Linked DNA regions of Homo sapiens: region 2 is linked to region 1. Evidence: fine-mapped expression QTL. A gene starts in region 1. The other region holds a variant in brackets. All regions are shown on one strand. Distances are between the middles of the regions. Region 1 holds the start of PVALB (parvalbumin). Region 2 holds the start of NCF4 (neutrophil cytosolic factor 4).

What was found.
Region 2: its variant is fine-mapped to the expression of PVALB in whole blood (INTERVAL, PIP above 0.99).

The regions. Positions count from the first base shown.
Region 1 is chr22:36,809,578-36,825,502 of GRCh38, reverse strand. It overlaps PVALB (parvalbumin), which reads left to right and starts at 8,468. Exons shown (of 4, transcript NM_001315532.2): 1 at 8,468-8,558; 2 at 10,268-10,400; 3 at 11,748-11,857. The coding sequence starts at 8,498.
Region 2 is chr22:36,849,045-36,864,129 of GRCh38, reverse strand. It overlaps NCF4 (neutrophil cytosolic factor 4), which reads right to left and starts at 3,124. Exons shown (of 10, transcript NM_000631.5): 1 at 2,927-3,124; 2 at 1-85. The coding sequence starts at 2,958. The region is part of intron 1 of NCF4-AS1 (NCF4 antisense RNA 1); the gene reads left to right. The variant A/G (reference allele first, on the strand shown) is at 4,319.

The DNA of each region.
Region 1 (15,925 bases):
CTGGGAATTCAAGGCTGCGGTGAGCTATGATCATGCTACTGCACCCTGTCTCCAAGGAAAAAAAAACAGAAAAAACACACATGCAAACTCGTCATCCTCCCCCTCGACACACATGCAAACACACGCCACACATAGACATGCCATACACAAACACACACCATACATAGACACGCCATACACAAACACACACCATACATAGACACGCCATACACAAACACACACCATACATAGACACGCCATACACAAACACACACCATACATAGACACGCCATACACAAACACACACCATACATAGACACGCCATACACAAACACACATGTATACACCACACACACCTTACACACACACACCACACAGAGACACACCACACACAGAACACACACAGATACACACCACACATAGACACGCCATACGCAAACACACATCTGCATACACCACACACACCTACACACAAACACACCACATAGAAACCCACACAGACACACACCCCATACACAGACACAACATACAGAGAAACACACAGATGCACACCACACACACACTGCAAACACCACACACACCCCCCACACACACCACACACACATACCCCACACACACCACACATAGACACACCACACACACATACTCCCCACACACAGACACACCACACACACCACACACAGATGCATCACACAGACACGCCACACACACCACACACAGACACACCACAGACACACATACCACACACACCACACATAGACACGCCATACACACACACCACACAGACACATATACCACACACACCACACACACACCACACACACACCACACAGACACACCACACACAGACACACCACACATACCACACACAGACACACACCACACATACCACACACAGACACACCGCGCAGATGCAGGCACACACGGACACACACCTCTGTCAAGGACCATTCTACTCTGTTGCAGGGCGTGGGCTGTGCCAGTGATGGGGGCAGGAGGGACTAATGGGGAGGGGACTGAGGAAGAGAGGATACAGTGAGAGGGGACGTCACCTTTTTAATCTAGGACCCCCTTTACGTTTGGAGCTGGGGTGAAGATGCCTTGGGGCCGAGCGTTCTCAAGCCCTGTGGACCAGCCTCCTCCCTCGGCTCCTCCAGGCCCACCCTCCAGTACCACCCAAGAAGGGAGAACCTAGAGACCTCCTCTTTCCAATCCTCTCCGGCCTTCTGAGTACATGCCTCCTTCTTGCGCCCTCAGCCCATGACCTCAGCCATGATCTAGGGGTGCCCTGCTCCCCTTTCACACTCCAGTCCACGTGGGGCCGTAACCCCTTCCCAGGGTTCCTCTGGGCAGCACTGGGATGGGGTGGAGTCTTCCAGGGCAGAACATAAACCCAGGTGGCCAAGAGCTCTGTTCACCCCGGCCCCTTGAGCCCTAACCCACCCTCTTTCCAGAGCCCCAGGCCCTTCCAGACCACAGTGCGTCTGAGCCCCCAGCCCCAGCCCCTTCCAGCATTCACATTCTCTGATTCTCCCCTTCTTCCTCTCCGTGTGGCTCCTCATTTCCCCAGCAAGGACACTGGGTCCTGGCCTTGGAGACCTTCCTGGAGAGTCAGCGGTTTTCAGAGGCCGGCACCCCTGGCTCTCCATGTTTCTATCCATAAAGCTATTCCAGGTCTTCTCATTCAGGGGCAGGCCAGGATCAAGTTCTGCTCCTCACAATGGCAACCCTATTATCATTTGTGTCGGATTTTATAGCCTTTCTCAGACACGATCTCATTTAGTATTCACCACGGCTTCCTCTTTAGCTCCATTTTACAGGTGGAAAAACTGAGGCCCAGAGAGGTGAACCAACTGGCTCAGGATCACACAGTGGGCAAGTGGGTGGAGCCGGGGCAGGGACCCAGGGCCGTCTGTCTGCCTGCCCTTGCCATCCTCACGACTGTGTTCCCTGTGGCCGCTCTCTCCGGAGGAAATCGTGCTTAAGCATGGGTAAGGGGAGGAAAGGGAAACAAGGCCACAGGCTTCCTGAGATCCGGCTCTCAGGAATGCAGCCGAGATTCCTTTGAGTTAATACACATCATCCCACAGGGCTGATCTCATCGATATCATTAGATCCTGCGATGTCCACCCAGCCTGCCGGGGCCCTGGATGTGGGGAACTCTGTATCCTGTTCCCAGCCACAGCAGGTGGAAATAGTGTGAACTCATGAAATAGCAGCAGCGAAGCTAACAGCTGAATACTTATCTCCTGGCAGGCGGCAGCTGAGAGACTGCTGGCCCGCACACACTGGCCTCCTCCCCTCCACCAGCTGGGAGGCCAGAGAGGGCATCAGGGAGAGCACTGGATGTGAGAAGAGGCAGACAGACCAGGCTCTGGTCCTGGCGAACTGCGTGACCTTGGGCAAGTGACTTGACTTCTCTGAACCTCAGTTTGGTTCATCTGTAAAAACTTTTCATCTGTATAAAAGAAAAAGATAGTGGGATCCACTCTGGTAACATATATGTTACTGGAACTATGTGAACGTGATCAGCTAAAGACCACGCCTCATTTTAGGGGATAGAAGGGGGCGTCAGTGTGAGATTGCGGCATCTGCTAGCTACTCAGGGTCCTCCTCCCTGCTCACAGTAAGAAACCCTGAAGCTAGAGGAAAATTCCACTGGGCACTGCTGCTGCCTTTAAGCAGAGGTCCTAGGCGGGTGGAGTCTGTAAGGTCTCACGCAGAGCAGGATGGGCCTGGGTCGGTGGGAGGGGACTTAAGTCCAGGAAAGCAACTTTGGGCCTCAGAGTGAATCATGCTCTAGAAGTTTGATGCAGGCAAACTGTCATTACACTCACCAAGGACTTAGGGCATGAACCTCCCATGTGCCTGGCACACTTGGGCAGCCCCCAGGGACTTACCTCAACAATGACTTCGTGGGCTTTGACTGCTCAAAGCCCCTCACCTCTCTGTCCAGGGACAGTCTCCCTCTCCAGGCCATTCCAATGATGTTGACATTCTGCCTCCTCCAAGCCTGAAGGGTATCCTGTGCCACAGGCCTGTGCTCCCTTTGTAATCAATAGTGACAGGTTCAGGGATGACATGGGCCAAACTGAGCTCATCACAACCAGTGAATGCAGCTCTGGGACTTTTTTTTTTTTTTTTTTTTGAGCGGAGTCTCACTCTGTCACCAGACTGGAGTGCAGTGGCGTGATCTCGGCCCACTGCAATCTCCACCTCCCGGGTTCAAGAGATTCTCCGGCCTCAGCCTCCTGAGTAGCTGGGACTGCAGGCACACACCACCACGCCCAGCTAATTTTTGTATAGCTCTGGGACTTTTGAGCAAACTCTCGGGCTGTAGACTCCCTTTCCCCCAAAGGACTTGGACCTGAAAGTTTGTAGCATTGCAGGGACAGCCATCTTGCCACCCTCAGGGGTCAACCAGTTTGAGAGAGTGGCACAAGGTATTGCTGAGAAGTAAGAGAAACAGCATCTTCCTGACAGCATTTGAGTTCTGGATCAAACCATGCTTGAACCTTCGTGGACTTTTCAGTTGCACGAGTTAGCAAATCCCCCACTGTCTTAAGCCAGCCCAAGTCAGACTTTCTCATCACTTACAGGCAAAAACAGACCTGACTGATAAACCCATTTTCTGGCATCAAGGCCCTTGTATAATTAACCAAATTAATAAAATGAAGCCTGCTTCAATCAGCACAGATTCAGAGCAAAAAAACAAACAAACAAAAAAAAAAAAAACTAGATCATGTTTCCAGATATATGACTCGGGTTTTAGGACATCTCTACCCTACTTTAAGTATTGTAGGGGGAAAGATCCTCCAGAATCAGAAGTGCTCAGTTTAAATCCTAGCTCTCCCACCTACTTCCTACCTGTGTGACCTTAGGTAAGTCACTAAACCTCTCTGAGATTCTATTTCTTCGAACGTCTGAGATAAAGCACATAAAGCACTAGGTACGCAGTAGGTGCTCAATAAATGCACCCCCCCCCCAACACACACACACACACACGATATGGTTCAGCCCATTCAGATTTGCTTAATTAGAGGTACATGAAGAAGACCTATGGGGACAAAGAGGAAGGCCATCTGGGCTCCTGAGAATTCACCCACAGTAGGTGCTGCTCCCGTCTTCCGGTCTTATTCTGGAAGCAGGATAGTGTGGTAGAAAGGAGCAAGTGCTTTGGAGTCAGAGAACCGGGGCTGAAATCCTACCTCCATTCTGTGATCTTAGGCAAGTTGCCCAATCTCTCTGAGCCTTGTTCTTCCATCATTAGTAAAAAAGAGAGGGTTTTGCCTACCTCTTAAGGGGATACAAGAATCAAAGTGCGATGCTGTGCACACAGAACCCAGCACACTGTTCAACAAACAAGTGTAATTATTTTCCCAGGCCCCAGCCAGCGATCTTCCTCAAGGGTTCATCCTCAAGGTTCTCCTGCATCCCGGCTCCCTGAGCTCAGCCATGCCCACGACTTGACGAGATCAACTCCTTGACTTCTCTGATGACAAAGCCCCCAGGGTCCAGCCCTGACCTCACTCCAGAGTTCAGACACATCTCCGCCAGGGTGTCCTTCAGGTCCCCTAAACCCAGCATCAGCTCTTGGCTCTTCCACTACTCTCTGGGGGATTTGGGTAAGTCACCCTGGCCTTGGTTTCTTCATCTATAACATGATGTCATTTGTAGAAGTTTGTAGCCGATCACCACGGAGGCTGTCCCAGCCCTAACATCCTAGGATTCAACACCACTTACTCTATCATCCCTTCGACTGAGCACTACCTCCTCCCTACACTCCCTGCCTTCAAAGTCAACACCTTCCTTCTTCAGCAAACCCCACCTTGAATATTTAGGGTCAGCTTGGATTTGTCCCTCTTGTTCATGCCACAGCCCCAATTCTGGAAGCTTCTCTCCAAGAGGTGCTCCCCTATCTGCACACTCCTTCCTGTTGCCACCACCAGCAACCTAGCTCAGGCCCCAGCACCACACCTCAAGGAGGCCCCAGTCCCAGCTTCCCCCATGCAGCCTGCCCTCGGCCCTTTCTATCCATGGAGCTTCCAAACAGCCTTTGCATGGAGCCTGGGATTCCTCGTGTCACTGTGAAGAACTAGACCCCACCATTGACAATCTTCGTGCCCTGGAGATTCTTTTCAGGTTAGGGATGAGGAGAGGAACATTTCATGGTGGTCAGATTAGATATTCACTACGTATTTATTGAATTCATTTGGTCATTCATGCTTCTCAAAACACATCCCTCAGCTGGTCCTCTCCAATCCAAAACAGACAATGTCAGAGATCTCTTTGCAAATCATGAAGGGCTTGGGCCTTTGTGCCTCAATGTCACACGCATACAATTTCAGGGGGTCCATCTTCCCCTCGCCCTAGACCATCTATAGGGCACAGTTTACCTCTGATTGAGCTCATGTTACAGGTGGAAAGACTGAGAAAGAGAGAGGAAGGGACTTGTCTGAGAATATGCGGAACATTTCCTTCTACCAGGCACTAGATCCTCGCACAAAAGTGCTGAGTCCGCTCCCAACCCCAGGCCCGTGGCTTTGAGCAGCAGGTCACTTAACATCTAACGTCTTTATGCTGTTTCCTCATCTGTGCGAGAGCAGCTATGTCTACCTGGCAAGGCTGTAGTGAGAGATCATATCAGCATAGGAATGGGGCTCAGCCCCATGCACAGAGGACAGTTCTTGTTTCATTCTTTTCCTTGCTGTTTCTCTTCCTTTCCTGGCAGAATATGGAGGAAGGAAGCATCGCTGCCATCTACAGTGGTCACGGAAGGCTTCATGGAAGAGGCGAGCCCTGCCTGGGCCTCAATTTTGGGTGCTGGAGGGAAGCAGGGGCCAAGAGTTATTAATAGTCTTGGCCTGATGGGCCCAGGGAGGCTGAATGTGATACAGACACCCAGCACCACGGTTGGGGAGTACCTGACACCGGAAGGGGAGGGGGCCGGGGCTACGGGGAGTGCCACCTCCCAAAATAGCCAGAGCAGAAGCCTATATAGGTGGCCATCCCACCTCCAGGCTCACTTCCCGACAGGACTTCCCACCAGCCCAGCCTTTCAGTGCAGGCTCCAGCCCTCCACCCCCACCCGAGGTGAGTGGCAGCTACCGAGGTTGGAGGATAGAGGGATGCAGCAGGATGAGCCAGCTGGAAGGGAGAGCTACATCTCCCCTGTCCGTAGTGACCCGGGGAGGGGGGTGCGGTGGGGGTGCTGGAGGCAGGGCAGCTGTGGAATGTAGGGCTGAGAGCATGCATTCCTGCTTCTCCACCCAGACTCCTGGTGTGGCCTGGGGCAAACTCCCCCCACCCACCGCCCCCCGTGGCTGGGCCTCAGATTCCCCAGCCTTAGAACGAGAGGGCTGGAGTCAGACATCTGTGGACTCTGGTGATGCCATCAGAGAGGACCCAGAGGGCAGAGGAGGACTACCCAGGGCTGATGGGCTGACCTAATGACATTGATGCTCTGGCTGGGAGGGCTCAGTCCCGGAGGGGGTGTCAAGTTGATAGGAGAACTCAGCAGCAGGGAGAGATGGAGGAAGGAGATGGAAGAAGAGTGGGCCCCTGTTGAGGCTGCAGCCTTTGCCACAGGGTAGCTGCTTAGGGGCTCACCAGGAGCCAGTGTGTGGCTGAGATGTATGGGACCTGATAGAGCTGGGTCCCAGGCACCAGGGAGGATCACCCAGAGAGTCACTGAACTCCACACGAGTGAGTCCAGGGGTGTACCCTGCTCTGCTATTGCTTTACCATGTGTCCTTAGACCATTCACGGACTCTGTGCCTCCGTTTCTCCACTGGTATAGCTGAAGCGTCCTTCAGCTGGGGAAATCCATTCTCCAACTAGGCTCCTGGAGTGAGCTGAGCCTGGGAGTTGAAATGATAGCATAGGAGCCTGGCATATCTGAGTCAGCAGCCCAGCTGGGGACAAGGTGCAGAGGTGACGGCAGTAGCAGCAGGGTCCAGGGCAGCTGAGGGGTCCTGGGAAGTCCTGGAGCTGAGAGGCATCAGGTCAGGAGCTGCATCCTTGGTGCCTTGGAAGCCATCTGGCGGGCTGTGGCTTGAAGGAGCTGACTCACAGGGAGGGGGCAGCTGGAGCCAGCAGAGGTATCCTAAGGTTTCCAGGAAGGGCAGCCATCCAGGGCTGAGCTGCAGGAGACAATGTTGACAGCGATGTCAGGGAACTTGAGTTACTGGGCAGCTGGACAGCTGCTCTCCCTGGTCCCCACCACCCAGGGCCACCACAGCCCAAGGCCCTGCCTACCTGCCAATACCTTAAGTTGCAGTCCCCAGGTCCCACTACATGGGACCACTGACGTCATCAACACATCAGAAGGAGACAGAAGCCCAGAGAAGGTCACAACCCAAGGTCACACTGGGACTTAGTGCAGCCCAGGATCTAGAACCCAGGCCTCCTGACTCCCTGTCCAGCGCTCACACACTCTAGAAGCAGCTGGTTGCAGCTTGAAACCTTGGGAACCATGGGGAAGAACACAACGGGTCTCTGGCTGCATACAGATAGGCACCGTGACATTTTTCCAGAGGTGAAGTTCAGACCCCTACACCTGCTTAGGTTGTCTAGAAAGTGTGGTCTGAAGGTGCTACCCTTCTTCCAAACACATATGGGGCTTTCTGGGAGGGAGCATAGCAATTCCAAGCGGACTCTCCCACCCTACTCTGCCCAAAAAAGGTTTATAGGAGTAGGGGGAGTCTGGACCCATGATGCCAGGACCCAGGAGACCAGGAAAGCAAGTAGTTAGTAGAGATCTGAGAAGTGTTCTTCGAAAAATCAAGCCAGCAAAAAAATAAAAAATAAAAGTAAAACATCAAATCAGGTTTTAGAATATGCATCCCTGGCCAGATGTGGGATGGGGCACCCGAAGTGGGCCCCAGCAGCTCCTGCCTGTCCCTGTCCCTGTCCCTGCCACCTCCTCCCTGCGTCGGGTGGGTCAGGTTTCAGGACCTCAGCGCTCAGATTTTGCAGCATAAATTTGCATCCAGGACAGACCAGAGCAGAGGCTGAGGTAGGAGTGGAGAGAGAAAGGGAGCAGGGCCTAGGAGGTCCTGAGGTGCAGGCTGGCCGCTGAAGGTTCAGGATCTTCCCCCACGCGGCAGGACATCCGCCAAGGTTCCCAGATCTGAGACGGCGCACCTCCTGCGTGTCCTTGACGGCAGGTGGACTTTCCAGACCCAGCTGGTGACGCCAGTGCCCCCTAAATCCCAGAGGTGGCCCCTTCCCTCGTGCCCTGGCCGCAGCCCCTGGGATCCCGCGGACCCCTGGCCTGGCGGTGCAGGAGTGGTAGCAGGTCCGCGCGCCTTCTTGCCGGCGGCCGGCGCTGCTCAGCGGCGCGGCTGGACTGAGCCGCTCCCGCTGCGCTCAGAGTCCGGGCCCCTGGCGCCATGCCAGGCCCGGCGGGCGTGCGCCCGGCGCGCAGCACTGCAGCGCTGGTCATATGAGCAGAAATGATGAGAAAAGCACTTTTTAATCTTTTCGCACTTGCTCTGCCCGCTCAAACAGTTGCAGGATGTCGATGACAGACTTGCTGAACGCTGAGGACATCAAGAAGGCGGTGGGAGCCTTTAGCGGTGAGCAAGCGCGCTCCCCTCCCCATCCCTCTCCCCTCGTCCACCGCCCGCGCCCCTGCACTCCGCCGGCCCCGCAGCCGGCGGATCCTCCCCAGCGCGCTTCTGCCCACACTTCCCGCTGGGCGCCGGCGAGGTCGGGGCGGGGGCGTCCTTGGCAGTTCCCAAACTCTGTCCGGGCGAGGCTTGGCGCGGGGAGCGGGCGGGGAAGAGGGCGCCCCGCCTAAGTTACAGAAACTTGAGGGTGCTGAAGGCCCGGTGGCTGGGAGGACTCAGGGTCCGGGACCAAGGGCGAAGACCAGGGTCGGAGGAGAGACCTCCAGGGTCCTTGTACGAGCTCTCTGGACGTCCTCTTTAAGGCACTTAGAGGGGACTGCAGGGGGCATCCTCCTCTCCAAGAGACCCCTTTCCTGGACCCTCATTCTGGACAGGACTTTTCCCGCCAGGCGGTAGCCTTTGTTGGCCCCCTGACTGTCCTAGTTCCTTTACTGAGATTCAGCAACGGACCTGCGGGCGAGGTGACCTTCTGGAGCCGGCGCACAGCTCTGCCTAAGCCCGCACGGGGCATCCTCAGTGCCTCAAACCTCCAGCCTCCTTAGGCGGGCAGGGGAGGGGAACTGGCAGTCTCACCTCTCCCAGCTGCCCGGGACTTCAGCGCTAAGCTGCCCGCCTTCCTCCTCCCCTGTCCTCCAGATGGGGAAATCAGGGAACTGTCTTGGAGAGGACAAGACATTTGCCCAAGGTCACCTAGCTGGGCAGAAGGGGTATTAGAACTGGGTTGCCCAGCCTAGTGTCGGAGGTGGACAGGGCAACTTTCCTTGTCTCTAGCCCTGTGCTGAGGGGAAGAGAACATGACTTCAACAGCCATTCCCTACACACACACACACACACACACACACACAAAATACATGATCTAACATTGTACCCTTCCCCAGGTGTTCTAAAACAGGACCCCAAGATACAGAAAATTGCAGGTAGAAAAGGACCCCCATTTCCTTTCTGCTTTGCACCCCCTCCCCTGGGCACAAGAACCTCTCTGGGAAGCCACCCTCCCAGGGTCCTGGGATAACCCTCTCCCTTCACCTCAAGCCCATGTGGGAAGAAACTTAACTGGGTGTTTCTCGGGAGCCTCCTAACACCCCCTTCCCACTGCCTCCGAAGTGGATTTCTGCGCAGAGCCAGGACTTCCGGGTTTGCCCCTCCTCCTCCCACTGTATGACCTTGAGGGAAACCTGTCCTTTCTATGTCAATTTTCTGGCAACAAAGTCTGTGGCCAAGAAAGAAGGTCAACCCTCCTCCCCCTAACCCCAGGACCATGTTCATGCCCCCTTCAATTCCCCAGCCCACTCCCAACCAGCTGGCACTCAAAAGTCTTCCTGGGCACAAGGTTCTCAGAAGAACAAAAGCCTTTGGTTCTTAGGTGCTGCTCCCATCATCAGCAATGGGTGCAGTGGAGGTGGGGCGTGGGGGCGGGCTTGAGAGCCAGGGAGGTCTGGGTTTGAGCACACCTCTTCCACTCCCAGCCTTGTGACCTTGGACAGGTTATCCTCCCTTGCCCGGGCTCCCTCAGCCCTCCAATGGAGGTGGGTACCTCTCATTCCCCATGACTGGCATGTGGGAATCCATCAACAAATGCCTTGATGCCCCCCATTCTCCCAGGCTTCCCTACCAGCCTTTCTGGTCCTTGTTTGACCCTGCTCTTCCCCCCACAGCTACCGACTCCTTCGACCACAAAAAGTTCTTCCAAATGGTCGGCCTGAAGAAAAAGAGTGCGGATGATGTGAAGAAGGTGTTTCACATGCTGGACAAGGACAAAAGTGGCTTCATCGAGGAGGATGAGCTGGGGTAAGCGGAGGCCTGCAGGGGCTGCCCAGCCCACGGCTGCACGAGAGGGAGTGGGGGCTGGGACTCTAGCTTCCAAGTGTCCATCAGACCTGCCTTTCACTCTGCCTGCTTCACAGAAAGTAACCGTGCGTGAAGGCAGGGCTCCGACCCAGGGCACCAGGGGAGAAGGCTTCCTGGTGCTATTGCTTCGGAAGAGTAAAACCCTCAGCTGAAAGTGCAACTAACTAGGTTAAATGATAGCCACTTAATATTGCTAATGGAATGTTGCTACTTAATAATTTAATGCAAATGAAGAGGCAGTTTTCTTGCTGCCTAACACCATAGGCAGGGCAGAAAGCATTCACTTGAGTATTTCATTGATTTTCATTTGTCTAAAAGACACTTTCCACCTTCCTGCAGCCCCCAGCCCTCTGGTACTAGTGTGGCTGGTGCAATTTCTAGGCAAGCCAGGGATGCAGAACCACCTCTGAGAGTCCAGGGGTCCTTGGAGAAAAGCAGAGAAGGAGAAGGCTGTGGCTAGGAAAATGCATGCCTCCATCTGCAAAAGCATCTCCCACCATAATTCCCTCAGCCACCCGGCCATGTCTACTGACTCAGGTTGCCTTATGTCACTTTCTGGCCAAGAAAGCCTTGAGTTTTGTCAAAAAGAGAAGCGGGGGGTGGGTGTAGGGAGAGGCCTTTCAAGTAGGGACTTCCCCACCCATCCTGTCTCTCCCCTAAACCATCTCACAAGGGTACCTTCTGTCTAGAATCTTCACGTTCTACCCACTTACATCCAACATGCATGCACACTTATGCACACACACACACACACACACACACACACACACACACTCACAGAGGCTGACTTCCCCCTGTCCTCCAGGTATCACCTTCACCAGGAAGCCTCCCCTCTCCTCCCCTCACCGCAGGTGGGCAGATACAGCTTCTGAGTGCCCTCCTCCACGGCCCATCACACTGTGTGGTCTCTCTCGGAGCCCGTGACCTCCTTATTTTTTCCAGTGCCTTCCGAAGATCACCACTGTGACCCCACTTTCCAGCATACGCCAGACACAGAAATGACACTTAGTGAATACTTGTTGGATAAATTAACGAATGTAGGTGCCCTCCCTGAAGTGAGGACAACCCTTCACTGAGGACAGCCTGTCCTTTCCTAAATACTCACCCACGAAAGCACAGCCACCGAGCAGGCTACCTGGCCCAGAGCATCCGTGTGCGTGACTGCTGCTCGCTGCCTGTCCCAGCCATCCCTTTCCCCATACAGAAACCAGACCACCCTCCATCCAGCGTCCTGCAAGGCGACCTCGGCCTGACTCCCTCACCGGCTTTCTCCCTTTTCTCCTCCAGATTCATCCTAAAAGGCTTCTCCCCAGATGCCAGAGACCTGTCTGCTAAAGAAACCAAGATGCTGATGGCTGCTGGAGACAAAGATGGGGACGGCAAAATTGGGGTTGACGGTGGGTAGCCGTGACCTGGGGTCTGGGCATATTGTGGATCTTGGGGTGTTGGATGCGAAAAGTTTGAAGCTATGTCTGTCACAAGGAAGGGATGATATGGGGGTCCCTCACTCCCCCAGATTAGAAGACAAAAAGCAGTCCATTAGGTCTGAGAGCTCTGCCACATACTCCAGACAAAGGAAAACTGGTGTATTTTCCTAATTTGAAAACCTAAAAGGAATAGATTCTGTTTTTCCTGCTGGGTAGGGGATCCAGGAGGATTTGGGATTTTTTTTTCCTGAACTCTGCCTGCATTTTTGCATGGATACTGGCCCAACCTCTGCCCAAACTGGCTGTGTGACCTTGGGCAGTGTCTCTCGATCGCTGGGCCTCTGTCTCCCATCTCTAATCCAACGAAATGAGGCCGACTAATCCCCAAGGATCCTCTGCCTCTCACATCCTCAGATTCCAGGGATGGAAATTCCTATCTCCTGTCCTCCTCAGCATCTTGTCCTGGTGTCCTGTAACCCCAAGTCTCAAAACCTGTTTGGGTTTTACTCAAATATACTATTCTAGCCTTGCAGCAGAGCCAGGAAAAACAGTAAACCAGAAATCAGTGGGGAATTCAGACAGGGAATACCTGGCCCTGCCTTGCTTTGCAGGCTTCAATGTCAGCACAGGTGAGAGACCAGTGGCCCACCGTCCACTCCTTTCTCCATTTGGCTCTGTGTGGCATTCATGGAGCACACCCACATTGCTATCTCTCTTAGCTTATGATTTTCTCCGGAATTATCTCCATTTTGCAGGTGGGCAAATGGACTTTGAAGGTGCTTAGCCTAGTTGAAAGAGCTAGGACATAGCGGTGGAGTGGGGATTTAGAACCAGGCCTGAATGAGTGTTTGCAACATACTAAGCTGCCATTTGTTCCCATAATAGGCTTTTCTGCTGGTCTCAGAGAAAACTGTGTGTAGGTGTTTGGCCTCTGGGCCCCAGGCTATCTGGGTTCAAATCCCAGCCCTACCACTTTCGAGCTGTGTGACCTTGCGTAATTTGATAACTACTCTGAGCCTCTGTTTTCTCATCTCTGAACTGAATAGAATGATAATTCTTACAGGGTGATTACAAGGGTTAGATGTGTTAATATGTAAAGTGCCTAGAACAGTGTCTGGCACAGAGTAAATGTTATATATGTATTTGTTAGCTAATTTTTTTAAAACTAGGTCCCTTCGCAAGGGTACCTTCTGTCTAGAATCTTCACGTTCTACCCACTTACATCCAACATATAAGTGGATGTAAAACTTAAAACTAGGGATTGGGTTGCATTCATCCTTCTAGCCCCAGTATCTAGCCAATACCCCACACAGAGCAGGTGCTTCATAAACATCCGCTGCCTGAGTGTAAAGCCCAGACCCCCATGCTCTGCTCCTTCTCTGCCCCTTGCCAGCTGTGACCTTGAACACGTCACCTCTGCACACCTACGTTCCCTTGCCCGGCAAATGGGGTGCATCAGCTTCTCCTAAGACCTATTTGGGCTTGTTGTGAAAATTAAGATTCTGTGAACCCAAAATTGCTTTGGGAAAGGTACAAGGATTATGAAAGTAGGTGTATGCCTATGAGTTAGAGGGTTTTTTTTGTTGTTGTTGTTGTTGATTTCTTTTCTGTTTGTTTGTTTCCTGCCAGTAACGAGAATGGAGAATCCCTATCCAGGTCAAATGCAGGGGGTCCCCTGGCCATCTGATGCCAGCTGCCCTTCTTGTGGCTGGGAAGGAGGGAGGTGGTTTTAAAGGAGTGGAGCAGAGGGTATTGGAAAGGCATCATTGGCTTGGCCGCTCCTGGGGCTTCTGGTGCTTGGCAGATCCTCCCTCACACCCCCATCCCCACCAATCTGCTTATCAGACAGCTCCACCCCAAGGCCTGGCTCCCATCTGAACCCTGACCCTGGCCTCCAGACCTGCCTTCCATTTTTATTTGCAGCCAATATGCCATACCTCAGAAGCCCTGGGCTGGGTCTTCATGGCTGACTGCTCACAGAAAACCTACCTGATGAAGAGAAACCAGCCAAACCTGGCCCAGTTCCCTGCCTCCCTCCCTCCCTCCCTGCCACACTCAGATCTTAAGGCATCAACTAAACTCTTCTAACAGATCCAGCAGATGTTGACTGAGTAGCAACTCTGTGCCCGGCAATGGAAGAGGTAAAAATAATTCAGGCCCATTTCCTGACTGGGTGCCCCTGAGCAGCTACTCCTTAGCCCTGAGCCCCAGCTTCCTCATCTGTAAACTAGGCATTATAACATGGAAATGTGGCCTGTAGTGCCCAGCACATAACAAATGCTCAATAAATGGCCACTGCAATGCCTTATTTATTTATTTATTTATTTATTTATTTATTTAGAGACAGTCTCTCTCTGTCACCCAGGCTGGAGTGCAGTGGTGTAATCTCAGCTCTCTGCAACCTCTGCCTCCTGGGTTTAAGCAATTCCCCCCTCCCCCAGCCTCCTGAGTAGCTGGGATTACAGGCACGCACCACCATCCCCAGCTAATTTTTGTATTTTTAGTAGAGACGAGGTTTCACCATGTTGGCCAGGCTGGTCTCGAACTCCTGACCTCAAGTCATCCGCCCACCTCAGCCTCCCAAAGTGCTGGGGTTACAGGCATGAGCCACTGCACCCGGCCATGCAATGTCATTTTTATTGTCTGCAAATTGCTTGCAGCTCTACACATATACACAAACAAGCGATAGTGCCAGCCAGAGGCAGAGGCGCAGGCATCAGGCATTTTGTACGGACTTGGAGGCTAAGCCACAGGCTGTAGGGGACAGAGGGAGTGGGGTCCAGGCAAGGTATTGGCATCAGCCAAGGCTGGAAACTTTTGGGTATGTTCAGAAAGGGGCAAGAAGATTGTTTTGCCAAGAATGGGAGGAAAGAATTATTAGCTGGGCATGTCATGTGTGTCCAGCCTAGTGCTGGGTTTGGTTACCTCATTTGACCTTGGGACAACAGAGGACATAAGTGCAGATGTAGAAAGGGCAGCCCAGGGAGTGAGTGCAAGGTCACAATGCCAGCAAGTGTCAGGGCCAGGATTCAAACCCAACAGCATGGTCCAGGCCCACCTGTGCAGCCTCCATTGAGCTCATAGGCAAGACATAAAATAGACAATGAGCACAGACCACCCTGAGGCACTGGGGCCCCACACTTCATGCTTTTGAGGTGGGAAGATGCAGATGCCCCCTTCCTCACTCCCAACCCCCTAACGCAGGAAGGGTGGGTGCAATGATGCCCAATAGGCAGCGAGATGGGAAGCAGAGCCTTTTTGGGGCCCAGGACGTTCTGTTTCAGATACTCTGCTTTGCTGTCACTCTCTCTAAAGGCCAGAAGGCCCGAGCCCCACCTATAGCTGGAAGATGCCTTCAACTCCTGGCGGGATCTGGGGCATGTCCCAGAGCCCCTCTGACCATAAAGTGCCTTGTCTTTAAAACCATGGGGCATGCCGGGCGCAGTGGCTCATGCCTGTAATCCCAGCACTTTGGGAGTCCAAGGCGGGCAGATCACAAGGTCAGGAGTTCGAGACCAGCCTGGCCAACATGGTGAAACCCCACCTCTACTAAAAATACAAAAATTAGCCAGGCGTGGTGGCACACACCTGTAATCCCAGCTACTCAAGAGGCTGAGGCAGGAGAATCACTTGAACCCAGGAGGCGGAGGTTGCAGTGAGCCAAGATCACACCACTGCACTCCAGCCTGGACAGCAGAGCTAGACTCCATCTCAAAAACAAAACAAAACAAAACGAAAAACCAAAAAAAAAAAAAAAAAACATGGGACATGGGGCAGATCACTAGCCAATTACTGGGGTGCGTTCCAGCCCCGGGATTTCACAGATGTCTCAGTGGATAAACCTCTACACAGAAGACCACTTCACTATTTTGGCTCAGCTGCGTGACCTTGAGTGATGATGGCAATAGCATCTAAGTTCATAGAGCGCTCAATATGTGCCAGGCACCGTGCTTAGCATTTCACTCATTTAATCTTCCTAGCTATCTCTGAAGTGTATACTATTATGATTCCCATTTTATAGATGAGCACACTGAGGCT
Region 2 (15,085 bases), 39 kb before region 1:
AAAGTGGCTGGTGAAGCCTCTCTTCTCCTCGATGTCAGCAATGTTGGCCGAGATGGCAACATCATCCGGAAGCTGTTCAAAGTCACTGTGCGAAGGAGGGGAAAAGAGATCCTGCTTATCACCCTGATGTGTTTTGTGGGCCCACCGGGTATGAGGTAGAGTGCAAAGCAAACTAATGTTGTGAAGCCAACATTCGTCTCTCAGCACCCCTTCCCAGGCCAGGTCCAGCCACTGACCCTGGGAATACGGAGATAACAAGACACAGCCCAGGCCTTGAGTGCAGGAATGGGAAGCTGGCGGCCATACTGAGTGCAGGAATGGGAAGCTGGTGGCCATATTGAGTGTAGGAATGGGAAGCTGGTGACCATATAGCAATAGCCAAATTATAGTCTAACACATTGCTGTCAATTGCACAGATTCACCTGGGAATAAGGCATCAAACATCTCCATACCAGGCCCTGTCCTAGGCCCTGGGTCACAGATGTAAACAAAGTCAACATGTGCCCTGGATGGAGCTGCTCAGTTCAGGGAACCGCAGGTTGCTGAGCATGGCTGGAGCACAGAGCAGGAGGTGGAACGTGATGAGAGACCAGTCGGAGAGACAGGCAGGGCCCGCTCACGAGGTGCCTTGATGCCTCGCAGAGGGACCTCGAGTTTTCCCTGGGGTGGTGGGGGCTGAGGAAGGAGTCAAGCAGGACAGACATTGGCAGATGCTCGAGGCATAGGCGCAGCACTGGGGACAAGAAGATCAAGCTCCCTTGGGAAGATTCCTAGCTGTGCTCCGCTCCTTCCCTCCTCTGTAAAATGGGGACAGGAGAAGTACTTATGTCTCCGGGTGGTCATGCAGTCCCATCTGTAACAAACACAGCCCTAAAATCTCCATGAGGGCAAGGACTCTGCTCACCCTACATCCCAGTGCCCAGAACAGAGCCCGGCATACAGTAGGTGCTCAGTACTGCTCAATACACGGCCACTACCGTCGTCTGCAATTATAGAGTTTTTTGATGGGCAGCATGAGAATGGCCTGGCTGCCTGTGGGGCGGGCAAGAAGAGCAGCAAACCCAACCGGAAGTCCCCTGGAATATCCGCTCCCTTGGGGACCTCACCCAGGCCCTACTGGGCCGGGATGTTCTGGCTCAAGACACACTCGCACAGTTCACAGACTTTGGAGCCTGGCCTGGGGGAGGTTTTGGAGCCTGCCCTGGGGGAGGCCGAGGTTGGAAGAACCCTTGGAGGGCAGCCAGGGCAGGTTTTCTGGCACCTGGCACATAGTAGGTGCTCAAAACATGTCTGTTGGAACCGAACTTGCCACCCCTAAGGCAGCCCTCCCCATCTTTGGATGTCTCACCTTGGGGTTCTAGAAAGTCCCCGCTGCGCGAACCTGCGCCCTCTCCTTGTACTCTCTGCTTTGACCTTAAGCAGAACAATCCAGGCTCGCTTTCAGATAAGACCTTCGAGGTACAGGGAGCCCCCATGCCCCTAGTACCTGGCTCAAGGCCTCATGAAAAGCAGTCCCTCCCCCTCTGAGGGCTAAGGCAGCTGAAAGGGGACAGGGAGTGGGGGAGGGAGTGCACAGTCCTGCTGGTCAGCTCTCCGTGTCATCCCCTGAACCCTGTACCCCAGAAAGCAGGAAGTGCCCAAGCCTCAAACAGCTGCTGCTTCCGGAAGATTCGAGTTTGCGTGCGGCTGGGTCCCCCAGGAGCATGTGAGGGGAGGAAGGAATTCAGGTCGGCCAGCCTTACCCAGCTCCTGCACCCCGCTCTGAGGCTCAGGAAGGCCACGTGGACTCCCCTGTAGGCATTTGCTTCTGCTGCCCTTGCCCCAACCCACGCTTCAGGTTCTACTTCCAGCCCCAGGCCCCAACATGGGCCTTCTGTTCCCCGCGTAGGCACACACCAGCCTGGCCTGTCTCTGGTGACCCCCTGAGTGGCCTCCACGTAGGTAACAGAGGTCACCTGCTGTTCCAATCCAGGGGGTGCAGGGGCCAGGCTTTGCGTCCTCAGGGCCCCCGCAGCTTAGAGCTCAGACCTGGCTACTGAGGAAAAATTCTGAAAATGCTTCCCAAGCGACGAGGCTAGATGCTGGTGAGGCCGTGCTCCAAGCCCCAACCTTGCCAGTCACTCTCTGTGACCCTGAGTAAGTCTCTTATCCTCCCTGGGCCTCAGATTTCCAATCTGTACAATGGCAAGGTTGGACTAGAAGAATCTAAGACCTTTTCCGTCTCAAAGATCCACCCATTCATTCATTCATTTATTCATTCATTCAGCAACATTTATTGAGCCCTTGGTCCTGGTGCTCAATAGGGATGAGCTACCTCCTAGTGATACAGCAGCGATCAAAACGGACACAGCCTCGTGGAGCTTGCTTCTCATGGGGGAGCCAACGTTCAAGAAAAAATAATAAATGAGCATATAATATTATTCCTGTAATATAAGAACCAGGCAGAAAAGGGAAATAGGGCAAAGGGTCAGACAGCAATGAGGTAGGGGCTGTCAGGAAGGCTTCTTGGAGGAGGTGACATTTGAGGCAAGCCCTGATTAGCGGAAGAACAAGCCAGATTCTGTGAATTCTGTTTGCGCAGAAGATGGAAAGTCATTGCTGATCACCATGTGAAGCAAAGGGCCCCAGCCTGGGACCCAGGACACCTGCATTCCTCTCCAGACACTGCCGGTCACTCGTTGTGTGACCGTGGGCAAGTCACTCCCACTCTTGGAGCCTCAGTGTTCTCATTTGTGTCTGAGGGTGGTGAGCCACAGCTCAAAGTTTCGTTAAAGCAGTTCTGAGAGGTTGCATTTCTGAGTATTTGGGTTCTGACTCAACCCCAGCCTCTCATGTTGATCAGGGACTGCAGAAGGACTGGCCTTTGTCCCTAAGGCCTATGAGGAGCAGTGAGAAGGCCCGGGGGCGGCCACACCCCGGCACTCACCTCTCGGCCCGCAGCTGCTGGGCCACAGCCATGGTGGGCGATGGTCCCAGGGAGCAGGTGGAGAGTCTCGCCCAGCCAGTCCCAGGCTGAGTTCACCTCTCACTTCCTCCAGCCACCCTGCGTCTCGTCTCAGCCTGTGGTCCTGGGAGTCCCCAGGAGCTGCCTTTGGGGAGGCTCAGGCCTGCTTCTCTCCAGTCTGGCAGAGGCTCCTCCTCCAGGCTCTCTGGGCCTAGCCTGTGGCCCACACTTCCTCTTACCTCACCTCCCAGCTGCACAGAAATTGAGGAAGTGGACCCTCGGGTGCCAGGTTTGCAGGAATCCACTTCCTTGATGTCAGTCCTTGGCGCCAAGCCTCAGTTGGGTATCAGAAGCCTTGCTCCATCAGAGATGGGGTCCCAGCCATCAGGGTGTCTTGTGACCTTGAGGAGTCACTTATCCTCTGGCCCATCAAGCCCCACCTTTATTCTCTTACTGCCAAGCCTTTGCCCAAACTCTTCCCCAGGCCTAGAATGCTGGCCTCCATTTTCCTGTGATCTCTTAGGCCCAGAGTAAATGCCACCTCCTCCAGGAAGCCCTCCTGGTTCCTCTGGCCTCTGTCTTCCTAGAGTGTGAAGTTTGGTTTGCGCGCCCTGGCACTCTGGGATATCCTTTCCTCATCCTTAGATCTCCATGCCCAGCCAATCCTCTTTCACAGGGCTGCCAATCAGAGTGAGTTTCACCCTCCCTGCTTAAACTCTCCTGCCCCATCACCCTGTGCTCAGGATAAAGTCCAGAGTCCTTGCCCTGCCTGCCTCCAATGCCCCTGAGGCCCTGCAGCCTTCCCCAGCCTCTGCTCCTGAGCTCCCTTTTTCTCACTGGCCTCCTTTCCGTTTCTAGAATGTTCTAAGACGTCCGCCCCAAGGCCTATGCTCATGGTGTTCCCTCTGCTGGAAAAAGCTCTTCACTGCCTCCTTTGCATCTCAGCTTAGAAGCTACATCTTTAGCGAGGCCTTCCCTGACCACACACCCTAAATTAAGGCCCTCCCTACTACATTCTCTCACAGGTCCCTGCACGTCTACTGCAGAGCACTCATAACTATTGTCATCTCACATTTGTTTGTTTATCTGTATGTTTAATGACTGCCTCCTTGGCTAGCAGCGTGCCTGGCACATTGCAAGTGCTCAACCAATATTCAGTGAATGAATGAAACGCTGCCAGTCAGTGACTGCAGCTCCTAACAGGTATGGGTATTTGATTCTGAAGGGACTTCTCTGAGAAGAGGTCCACAGGAGTCATTGGCACAGCCACACCCAGTAACTCCCTGCCAGCTACACACGCTCACACACTCGTATTCATACATGCAGAGCAGAAAGTTGTTTTAAACTACTTTAAACATACAAGTCCCAGCTAAA[A/G]AAAACAAGAAAGCATAATTTTTAGGTAGGATCAAAGAGAGGGGTCAGGAATCTATACCAGGGGGAGAGGAACGTGGCCAACAGCCCATGGGAAAACCAAGATTGGATATGCATTGTTGGGCTGAGATTTTAATGCCAAATCTGGGACTAGGTACAGGCCACAGGTCCTGCTGTTAGCAGAAAGTCAAATCTGAGTTCTCAGTGTAAAGTGGGTGTCAGAACTGATTATGGGAACAGAGTTTCTCAGCCATCAGCCTAGAGTCACGGCAGGAGCTGAGGTCCTCTCACAGTCCATGGGTGGAACAAGGGACGTGTGTACCAGATCAGCCTCAAGCCTGCCCTCTGCACTGGTGTAAGGCCCCGATATAAGCTACCCACGTGGTGCAGAAATCCTAAGCTGAGGCATTATATAAAAACAGCTTGGAGTCAGTGACTCTGCAGGGCCTACTCTGTCAACTCACAGACCAAAACTACAAATCGTGAGCTGTGAAAGACAGCTCAGAGCCTCCACATCATGAAGAATTCACACCCAAAGAACTAGAAATAATACAAACAATAAGTCTGATGAGTTGCTGGTGTCTCGGGGCTCCCAGGCTAGAGGATGAAATGAAACACAGAGCAGGGTTATTAGTGCAGGTGTCTGTAAGTACCAACAGGTGCAAGCACACAGCCATAACTGAGGGAAGAGGAGGACATTGGCCTACAGTTGGTCAGGAAGGACAGGAAGTGGCAAAACAATTTTAGCAAGCAAGCATGATACAGAATTTGTAGGTGATTGTGTAAACTGTGTGTGTAGTATATGCCTATAGTTGGAAACACATATTTGTGTATAAACACATACAGCTCGCATAGGCAAGTGTAAGTGCATTTGTGTTGTGTCTATAAAAGACCATATAATGTGTATAGTGGTGGCATTGTGGCTGTGAGAGAATGTGTTTAGATGTTTAGGTTGCAGTCGGTGACAAATGAGTATAAACACAAGTACATTTATAATAGGTGAACTCAGGCAAGATAACATGTCCTTTTTGAACCTTTCTTCTTCACCAATCTGTGAAACAGTCTTGCCTAATGGAGTTGTAGTAGGAATTAATAGAAAACTGTATAAAAGTGCCTAGACACATGGACATTTCTTATTCCTTTTTTAATCGTTTTCAGTGTGTATATCTGTATGTGTGTGTTTCAGGTGGGTTAAGCCCTCAAGTTTACCTTCCCAGGTATTTTCATGGCTTGCCCTCCAAACCCCGGCCCCCCCAACCCCCCAAGAAACCTCCTGTGGCCCTGACTCAGCCACTGGGAAGCCACCTCTGCACCTGGGGGACAAAGATGTCCAGGGAAGAGCCCGCGACGGGCCAGCTCTTCCCCTCCTCCCCTCTTTCTCTCCTTTTCTTCTGTCCCTGCCCGTGGTTCTGCTGAATACAGGTATTTCTCTGTCTCCTCATACACAGAACGCTGCTGCCAATTTTATGCCCGAGCTCTGATACAGTGTAATTTGAGGCCAGGCACTCTGTCAGCAATGGGCTCCTGTCCTGCCGCTGCAGCAATGCCTGTACCTTCTACTCCCACTCCAGAACCGGGCTCTTGCTGCTCCTGCTGCAGGGGGAGAATGAGGCAGAGGGATGACCTGGAAGAGGAGCCAAGCTCTTCACACGTTCCATTAAACAAGTATGGATGGAATCTTTTTTGGATAAGTGCAAAGAAATGCCTGAAGTGACCTCTCACTTATGGAGACCTGATTTTTGATAACCTCCACATCCCACAGCCTGTGAATAAACCAAAAAAAGAGAAAAGCCATTGAATGGTTAGAATTGATAGCTCAAAGTCTATGCATTGACACTGGCATATTTTATTCACAGAAGAAATATAAAAGGAGCCTGGTCCTCTCTTCCTGCCAACTCAAGAACTTGAAGCAGTGAGTTAGGGGAAGGAAGAAAATTACCAGGGGCAGCCAAATGCAAGCGACAGTTCAGTGACAGCCTGACAATGATAAAGACCATGGAATACCAAAAAATATATATGTTCTCAAGAACTCAAAAAACAAATACCAGAGGCCATTCAGAGAAGGGCATCTCTGCATAACACCACTTACTAATGCCCATTCATAATCACATCTCCAGGAAAAAGTCTAATACACCAAGACCATGCCTGGGGGATCCCCAGAGCCTGAATGGGGACTGGATGTGCGAATCACAAAAGTGCACAGCACTTTTCAGTCCTTCCTCATGCAGGTGCTGGGGTATACAAGATAAACCATAGCCCCCATTTTGGACATGAGGAAACTCTCCTTTGAGCAGCCAGCGGCTGGGGCTGAGAGCTCCAGCCATAGGAACTGGAACTCTGTGATAGGGAGGAGGTGAGCCTCTTCTACAGGACCAGGAGATACCCTTGAGAGCTCATTATAGGTACTCAGCAAATCCCCACTGCCTACATCAGCCACTCTCCAGGGTAAGAGAAGGAAAATCCCTGATTGGACAGTGTAAGATTCCTGGGGATCCCTCACACACTGAATTCCCCAATCTTGACCCACATGTGTCTCCCTTTATAATTTATGAGGGGAACTTCACTGGACCTCCTCCCTGAGCCATAAATAGCCATCCCTGGCATGCCACCCAGGCAGGGAGGGTGTAGACGTGGCCAATTAGACAGCAAACTCCCTGAAGGCAGAGGGTCTTCTCTTCTCTGAGAAGCCCTGGCACACGGCTGAGCTGGGTCTAAACCTCGTGTGCCCTCGCTGTGTCACGCATTAGTTGTGCAAACTCTCCGACCATTGTTCAGTTTTCTAAATGGAGATAATATTTGCCTCTACATTATTAATTGGAGAGAAAAATTGCAGGATTATTGTATTATTCATTTCCAAATGTGTTGAGAACCTACTATGTGCCAGACACCCACTGTGTGCTAGGCCCTAAATGAAACACAGACACTGTTCTTGAGACACGCACTTACTAGAGGTGTGTTAACTAAGGGAATGAATACCAGATGTTTAGGACAGTGGCTCGCGCATAGCAGGTGGTCAATAAATTCTAGACGTTAATGTTATTGACGATCATTCCTTGCTGTGGCTTGGTCCCTCCCTTTTCTGTCTCCCTCTGCTGCACAGCTTGGTCCTCTCTGTCATACAACTAACGTTACATTCTAACTTTTTCCCGCAATCTGTCATCCGCTCTCATCACGCGGGGGCACCGGGACGCGCACTTCCCTGGCGGAACCGGCTCTGCGCTTAATCTAAATGTTGACGGGAACAGACCGCCAGGGGGCGCCGCGATCAGCAGCCGAGTCCCCGCTCCGCAGCGCCACCTAGAGGAGGTTGAATGCTATAAGCCGCACTAGAAGGACCCGGCCAAGTCGAGAGTCAAGTTGCAGCTGGCCAGGCAGAGCGCGCAGCCTGCTGGCTCAGACAACCTCTCCAGACAGCCCTATCAGCCAGAATCTGAGCTGCACTCAGGGGAAGCTTCCCCCAGGGGCTAAGAATCCTGAATCTCCTCTCCACCATCATAAATACGGTAACAGCCAAGTCACTCTGAGAGTTGACTGTGTAACCACCCCTACACCGTGAAATTGCCAGGAGGAGCACGAGAGCTAGCATTTGCAAAGCCCTTAGTACAGTGCCTGGCCCACAGCCTGGCTTGGTCCATGTTGGCTCTGATTGTTGTTACCTAATCCTCACACCAACCCCCATAAAATAGTGGTATTCTTATCCCCACCGGGAGATAAGGAAACCCAGGCTTTACGGGATTAGGAAAATAAACCAAAGCGGCTTGCTTAATGACCGGCAGAGTAAGATTTGGACCTCACATCAGTCTGGCTTCAAGACCCACACTTAATAACTGCTGTACTGGCCCTCATTCATTCATTTATTCACTCCACAAGCATTCATCTAGTATCACTCTGCACCAGGTAGAAAGGATATTGAGATGAATTCAGCACAACTGCTGCCCTCAGGTAGCTCACACTGCTGTTGAGGTACATAAATAAACACACATGCACAACACAGGCACATATACACATGCACACGCAGGCACACATACACATGCACAAACATGTATAAACACATACACATGCATGCACACACAGGCATATATACACATGCACACGCAGGCACATATACACATACACATGTACATATACACATGCACACATAGGCATGTACACAGAGACACATACATATACACATGTACATGTACACCTGCACACACATGCATGTACACACAGGCATATAGAAATGCACATACATGCATGCACACACATGCAAATATACACGTGCATGCATACCCATGCTCAAACATGTACACACATACAGAATCAAGTACAATTTGGGGAAAACCAAGAGATACATGTTTCACATCCAGTTTCTCTGATTCCATCTCCAGTGCTGTCTTTGGTCCCCAGAGGTTATGGACACAAATGTCTACAGCGGCCTGGCAGGTAGCCTGGAGGTTTCAGATGGATCCGGGGGTGGAAAGGCAATGGCAGTAGGCTATAGTCTAGCGTCTGCCTTTCGTTAACCTTACATTCTGGGACAGAACTCCAAACTCTACATTTGAACCTGGCCTTCCAGTTTATCATGAAGGTACATTTATCAAAGAAGGATAGAACTTACTTTTTAGCAGTTGATTGGCTTGATTCCTAACTGTACATATTTAGAATCGTGGTACATGGGCCTCTGTCCCATTGCTCTAGGCCCTCCAAATGTCAGGGTCAGTGAGCAGGACAGATAGGCTTGTAAGTCATGGTGATTCTCAGGATTTCATTCAAAGAGGAAAGAGAAACCATTCAAGTGTTTTAAACAAGGAGTGATATGATTGAATTTATGTTTTTATAAGATGCCTTGGTCCACTACTTGGATATGGGCTTGCAAGAGGGTGGCATTAGAAACAAGGGGAGGAAGCACCACTTCTAACAGCGTTCTACTTCAATTTTTAAAAAATCAGCTTTATCAAGGTGCAATTCACACACAGTAAAACTTACCAACTGAAAGTATACAATTCCATGGGTTTGGACAGTTGTGTAACCAGCACCACAATCATTATATAGGACATTTCCATTATCTCAAAAGATCCCTCAGGACACTTTGCAGCCAATCTCCTTCCCCTACCCCCAGGCCCTGGCAATGACTGATCCACTTTCTATCACAGTATTTTGCCATTTCTGAAATTTCGGACAAAACCACAGAGTATGTGATCTTTTGTGCCTGTTTTTTTTCACATAGTATAACGCTTTTGAAATTCATGAGTGTTGATATGTACATCGGTATTCATTCTTTTTATTGTCAAGTAGTATTTTATTGTATGGATATAACATAAGTTGTTTTCCATGCACAAGTTCATAAACATTAGGGTTTTTTTTTTGTTTTCCAGTTTGGGGCTGTTAAAACAAAGGGGCTACAAACATCAAGCATAAATGTTTGAGTGAGCATGTGCCTTCATTTCTCTTGGGTAAATATCTAAGAGAGAGTTGCTGGGTCATATGGTAGATGCATATTTAACTTTATAGGAAAACTGTTTTCCAGGTCGGGTGTGGTGGCTCACGCCTGTAATCCCAGCACTTTGGGAGGCCGAGGTGGGTGAATCACCTGAGGTCAGGAGTTCGAGACCAGCCTGGCCAACATGGTGAAGCCCCATCTCTATTAAAAATACAAAAATTAGCCACGCATGGTGGTGGGCACCTGTAATCCCAATTACTCGGGAGGCTGAGGCAGGAGAATCCCTTGAACCCAGGAGAGATTTCAGCAAGCTGAGATCGCGTCACTGCACCCCACCCTGGGCGACAGAGCGAGACTCGGTCTAAAAACAAACAAACAAACAAACAAACAAACAAACAAACAAACAAAAAGAAGGAAACTGTTTTCCAAAGTGGTTGAATCATTTTGCATTCCCCCTGACCCATGTATCAGAAGACAGAGGCTCCAGAGTACCCGGTGTGCACTGGCTCAGAGGCAGTGGCCCCAGGTCTGCACAGACTGGGGGTCTAAATGAGTCATAGCCTTGGGGCTGGTTATTAAATGATTTTCTCCCAGCTCCAAACCTTTCTTCTACCCTCTGCTTTGTGGTGCCCGAGCTGGGACTCAAAACCCTGTTTGTTCTGCTTTGCTGGCTGATTTCCGCTGCCCTTGGCCAGGAGGGGGCGCTGGAGGGAGGCCGGAAGGATGGGAGAGGAAGGAGGGGCTTGCTTCTTTCTCTTTGCAGGCGGGACCCAACTGCCCTGCCCTGGAAGCCATGTTGGCCCAGCAGCAGTTGATTCTAGGTTTTAGTTTTTTTCACATTCCCAGAGCCAGTCTCACCCCACCCCCTCCTCAGAGGTCTGCAGTTCTGAGTCCCAGCTCCTCCCCGCAGGTCTAAGTCTCCTCCTCCAAGCTTCCAGGCTAGCGTAACCCCGCTCTCTTCCTTCCGTTCCCACAGCCGCAGGGGTGATGGCTGCTTCCTGAAGTTTCTATCTCTGGTGACCTCGGTGTCTCCTTCTGCCTTTTCAGTCTAACAGAATCTGTTCAAGCAGTCTCCTTTATAGAATTCTCACTTTAAAAATTATTCATTTGCTTTCTGTGTCACCAAACCTAGCCAGCCTAGCAGGCTGCAAGGCCCAGCTCCCAGCCCCAGGGTGTCCCAAGGGAAGCAAGGCAATAAGGCAGAAAGAGCTCTCACTCTTTGGCTATGAACTCTCAGACATCTCCCTCAAGCACTCCGAGCTTCAGGTTATTTATCTGCAAAATGCATCCAAATAGAGCCTAATATAAATGAGGGCTTAATAAATATTTGAGGGAGGAAGTGGAAGAAGGAGGTATTTTATATCCGTTATTGATACCTACTTCATTTGAGCATGTTACAAATTTTTTTCTAATACTCTGCAGGGAATGCCAAATCCTTCCCCTGTGCACTCTGTCTTTATTCTTCTTGATAAGGTGTAGCAGAGACTGCTAATATCCCCTACGATCCACTCTGTCCTTTCTCCTTTAGTGATAAAGTCCCTGAGTTGTGGCTGGACTCATGGCCACCCAGCTAAAGAGAACATTTCCCAGCCTACCTTGCAGCTCCCTGTGGCCATGTGACCAGTTGCTGGCCAATAGAATGGGAGGGGAGGCCATGGACATGCTATCAGGCTGTGTCGTGAAAGACAGAAGGTGTATCTTCCATTTCCCATCTCCCCTTCCAGCTGGCTGGAGAGGCCAGCTATGGAGAACAGTTAAGCAACAAAACAGCTTGGATCTCTGACCCTGCTTCTGTTCAGATTTTTCAGGGAGAAAGAAATTTCTATTGTGTTTTAGCAGCTGATTCTTTGATGCTTGTTACAGCAGCTGAACCTGTACCCTACCCAGTACACTGGAGCAGGGATTGGCAAATGCTTTCTTTTCATTTTCTTTCTTTCATTTTTTTTTTTTAAGTTGGAGTCTCGCTCTGTCACCTAGGCTGGAGTGCAGTGGTGCAATCTCAGCTCACTGCAACCTCTGCCTCCCGGATTCAAGCCATTCTCATACCTCAGCCTCCTGAGTAGCTAGGATTACAGACATCTGCCACCACGCCCCGCTAATTTTTGTATTTTTAGTGGAGATGAGGTTTCAACATGTTGGCAGGCTGGTCTCAAACTTCTGGCCTCAAGTGATCCACCTGCTTCAGCCTCCTAAAGTGCTGGGATTGCAGGTGTGAGCTACTGCACCCAGCTGAAAAATAATTTCTAAAAAACGCCAGATAGTAAATAGTTTAGGCTTTGCAGGGAGTTGGTCTCTGTCACAACTGCTGAATTCTGCTGTCACAGCACAAAAGCAGCCATAAACAATAAATAGTTGAATGTGCATGACTATCTTCCAATAAAACTTTATTTATAAAAGCAAGCAGGTCTGTGTGGACGCTGCACCAGAGTTAACAGCAAAGAGACTACCTTGCGACAGTTAAAAAGAGCTCAGGAAGGTGAATCCTGGGTGAGGGGTGAGGCAGAGCAGCTGCCTGAGGGCTGCCTCCTCCCTGAGGGTCTACCTCTGGTTCCTGATGCTGCTAAGATGCCACTGCCTTTGAAAGTGCCCCAGGAAAGGAGGGCTCCTCTAGCTGCAGTTTATCCAGCACAGACATGTTGGAATTTGATTTTCCTAAAGGCATCAAAAGGGGAAAAATCTACAGCCAGCAGAAAAGTGTGGCTCCAGGCTGACCAGCATCTGCATGAAACTATATTCAAAAATCAGTCGTGCCTCCAAATATTAACTACAAAGGAATGGCAACCTCCCCTTTCCACAGCCCTCTCCTCCCTCCTCTGCGCTGCAGCACTCTGAAGCCCCTCACCCACCCGCACCCTCCCTCCAGCCCGGGCCCCAGGACATGCCTTCCTCCCTTCCTCTGCCTGCTCATTGTCCTGTACATCAACTTGACCTCTCCTGATGCATTCTCCCCGTCTTCCTCCCATCTCTATGATTTTATGGCTTTTCTTCATCCATTTGATTCTTTGCATCACCTAAGATTCAAAACTGGTCAAAGACTTCCCTGGAAGGCTGGGGCAGCACCCTCCCCAGCTAGAGCTGTCACTTTAATTCCAGCCTCTGTCAGCGTCTTCACTTCTCACCTCTTCCTGCTGAAGATTCCATAGCATGGGCACATTTGGGGGCAAGAACCATGTCCCATTCATCTATGAATCACCAGTGTCCAAAACAGGACCAATAAGGGTTTGTGGGAGGAAGGGAGGGAGAAAAAGAGGGGAGGATGGAGGCCGAGAGTGAAGAAGGAGACAAAGCAAGTGGGTAGACTTGCAGTAGGACTGGGCTTTTGATCTCGGACATTGCCCTCTTGCCGGATGAGGCCAGGACCCAGGTGATTGAAATAAAAGCATCTCTCGCTCCTCATGAGCTCTGCCCTCTACGTTAAGGGGAGAGCTTTCCCTCTTACATGCCCACAGTGTGGCGACGACTGCCCAGGGTGCCCCACTCTCTCGGAGCTGCACAGCCAGGAACCAGAGAGCTTTGTAACACGCAGTCCTGGGAGTTCTGTAACTGGCCTTTCAGCTCCTGGCCCTTCGGCCACCTGCTCCCAGCTGTGACCTCCTAGCCACAGCCCTCAGTGTACTCCTGTCCCCAGCCCTCACCTGGGGTCCTTCTGCAGCTGTGGCCTCTGCTATTTGTTTTTTGTTTTTGTTTTTTCTGAGACGGAGTCTCACTCTGTCTCCCAGGCTGGAATGCAGTAGCGCAGTCTTGGCTCACTGCAATCTGCCTCCCGGATTCAAGTGATTCTCCTGCCTCAGCCTCCTGAGTCACTGGGATTACAGGCGTGGACCACCACGCCCGGCTAATTTTTGTATTTTTAGTAGAGACGGGGTTTCACCATGTTGGCCAGGCTAGTCTTGAACCCCTGACCTCAGGTGATCCACCCGCCTTGGCCTCCCAAAGTGCTGGGATTACAGGCGTGGGCCACTGCGCCTGGCCTGGCCTCTGCTATTACCTACCACCCACAATGCTGCCTCGGCTCCCCCAACCCCTGTGCCACTTGCTCCCACCGCTTCTCCTCTGTGACTGGGGCTCCTCCCAGATGCCTCTCCAACCTCAGCCACCTTCCCCAGCATGCACTCTGAGTGGGGGTTTCCTTACTCCCGAGCGCTCTGTTACCATCTGCACACCGAGGACTCTGCGGTCGCTCGCTGGGCACCAGGCCGTGTGTCCCAGCTGCCTCCTGGACCCCCTACCTCTCCCTAGCTGTTCCCCGAGCCCCTCCAAGCCAGTGGTTCCTTTCCCTCCACAGCGGCCCCTCCTCCTGAGCTCTGTCTCCACCATTTACGGAAGACAGAAACCTGGAGTCACCTTGGCCTTCCTGTCTCCTTGGCCTGCCACAGCCGATCTGTCAGGAATGTATTTCACCTCCTTAAGTTCCCTCTAACTGCCTCTCCTCCTCCATCCCTACAGCCTGGGCTTAAATTCAGATTTTCCTCCTCTCCTGCCTGAATAATTTCAACAGTGGCCCACCTGGTCTTGTCCTCCATCCGTCCTGCGGGTTGTCATCCACACCAGCTCCTGGGAGGCCTTTCCTGAATATGACTAACCCCACACATCCCATCCCTCCAGGCCTCACGGTGGCTAAGAAAACGAGTCCATATCGCTCTCATTCAGCCAGGCTCCAGCCTAACTCCAGACTCATTCCTCTCCTCTCCCAGCTAAAACTACTGGGGCAGGTGGTCCCTCAAGCCCCAATGTGCCCAGGCCTTTGCATATTCCAGTGCCTCCACCCCCCACCCCCAATATCTCTGCTTAACCAATTCCTAGTTCTCCTTAAAGACTCCACACGCCATCCACTAGAAAGGTATCACAAGGGTTCGAAATGGAACATCTGCCTGGCACACAGTAAGTGCTTAAGATGATGGAATTAGGAGTGTTATGGTGGGTGCCCTGGAGCCCTGGGGACGATAAGAAAGATCACGAGGTGATCTTTAGAATCTTAGAATGGGCTTCACAACGATCTTAGAAGGGGCTTCAGCCTCAGGGTAAAGTTTGATGCTCAGACCACTTCCCCTTCCACTTAATAGCAGGATCTAGACTTTCTCCAGCACCCCTCCCAGGTCTTTCCAAAAGTCTTCTTCTTCTCTGATGAGGGAGGGAAAGGGTCTTTTCTCCCCTTGTTCCTCTGCCCCCACACACTCCCATCTGAAACCCCTACCTCCCGGAGCCCTGCATTGTAGGGCGTGGACCTGCCCCTTATCCCCCGAAAACCCTATCTACAGACTCTAACGGAAGGGCAGAAGGTGTAGGGATGACCAGGGGATGAGGGGCTCTGCACATGCCCCTCCGTAGGGCACTCATAGGCCTCCGCT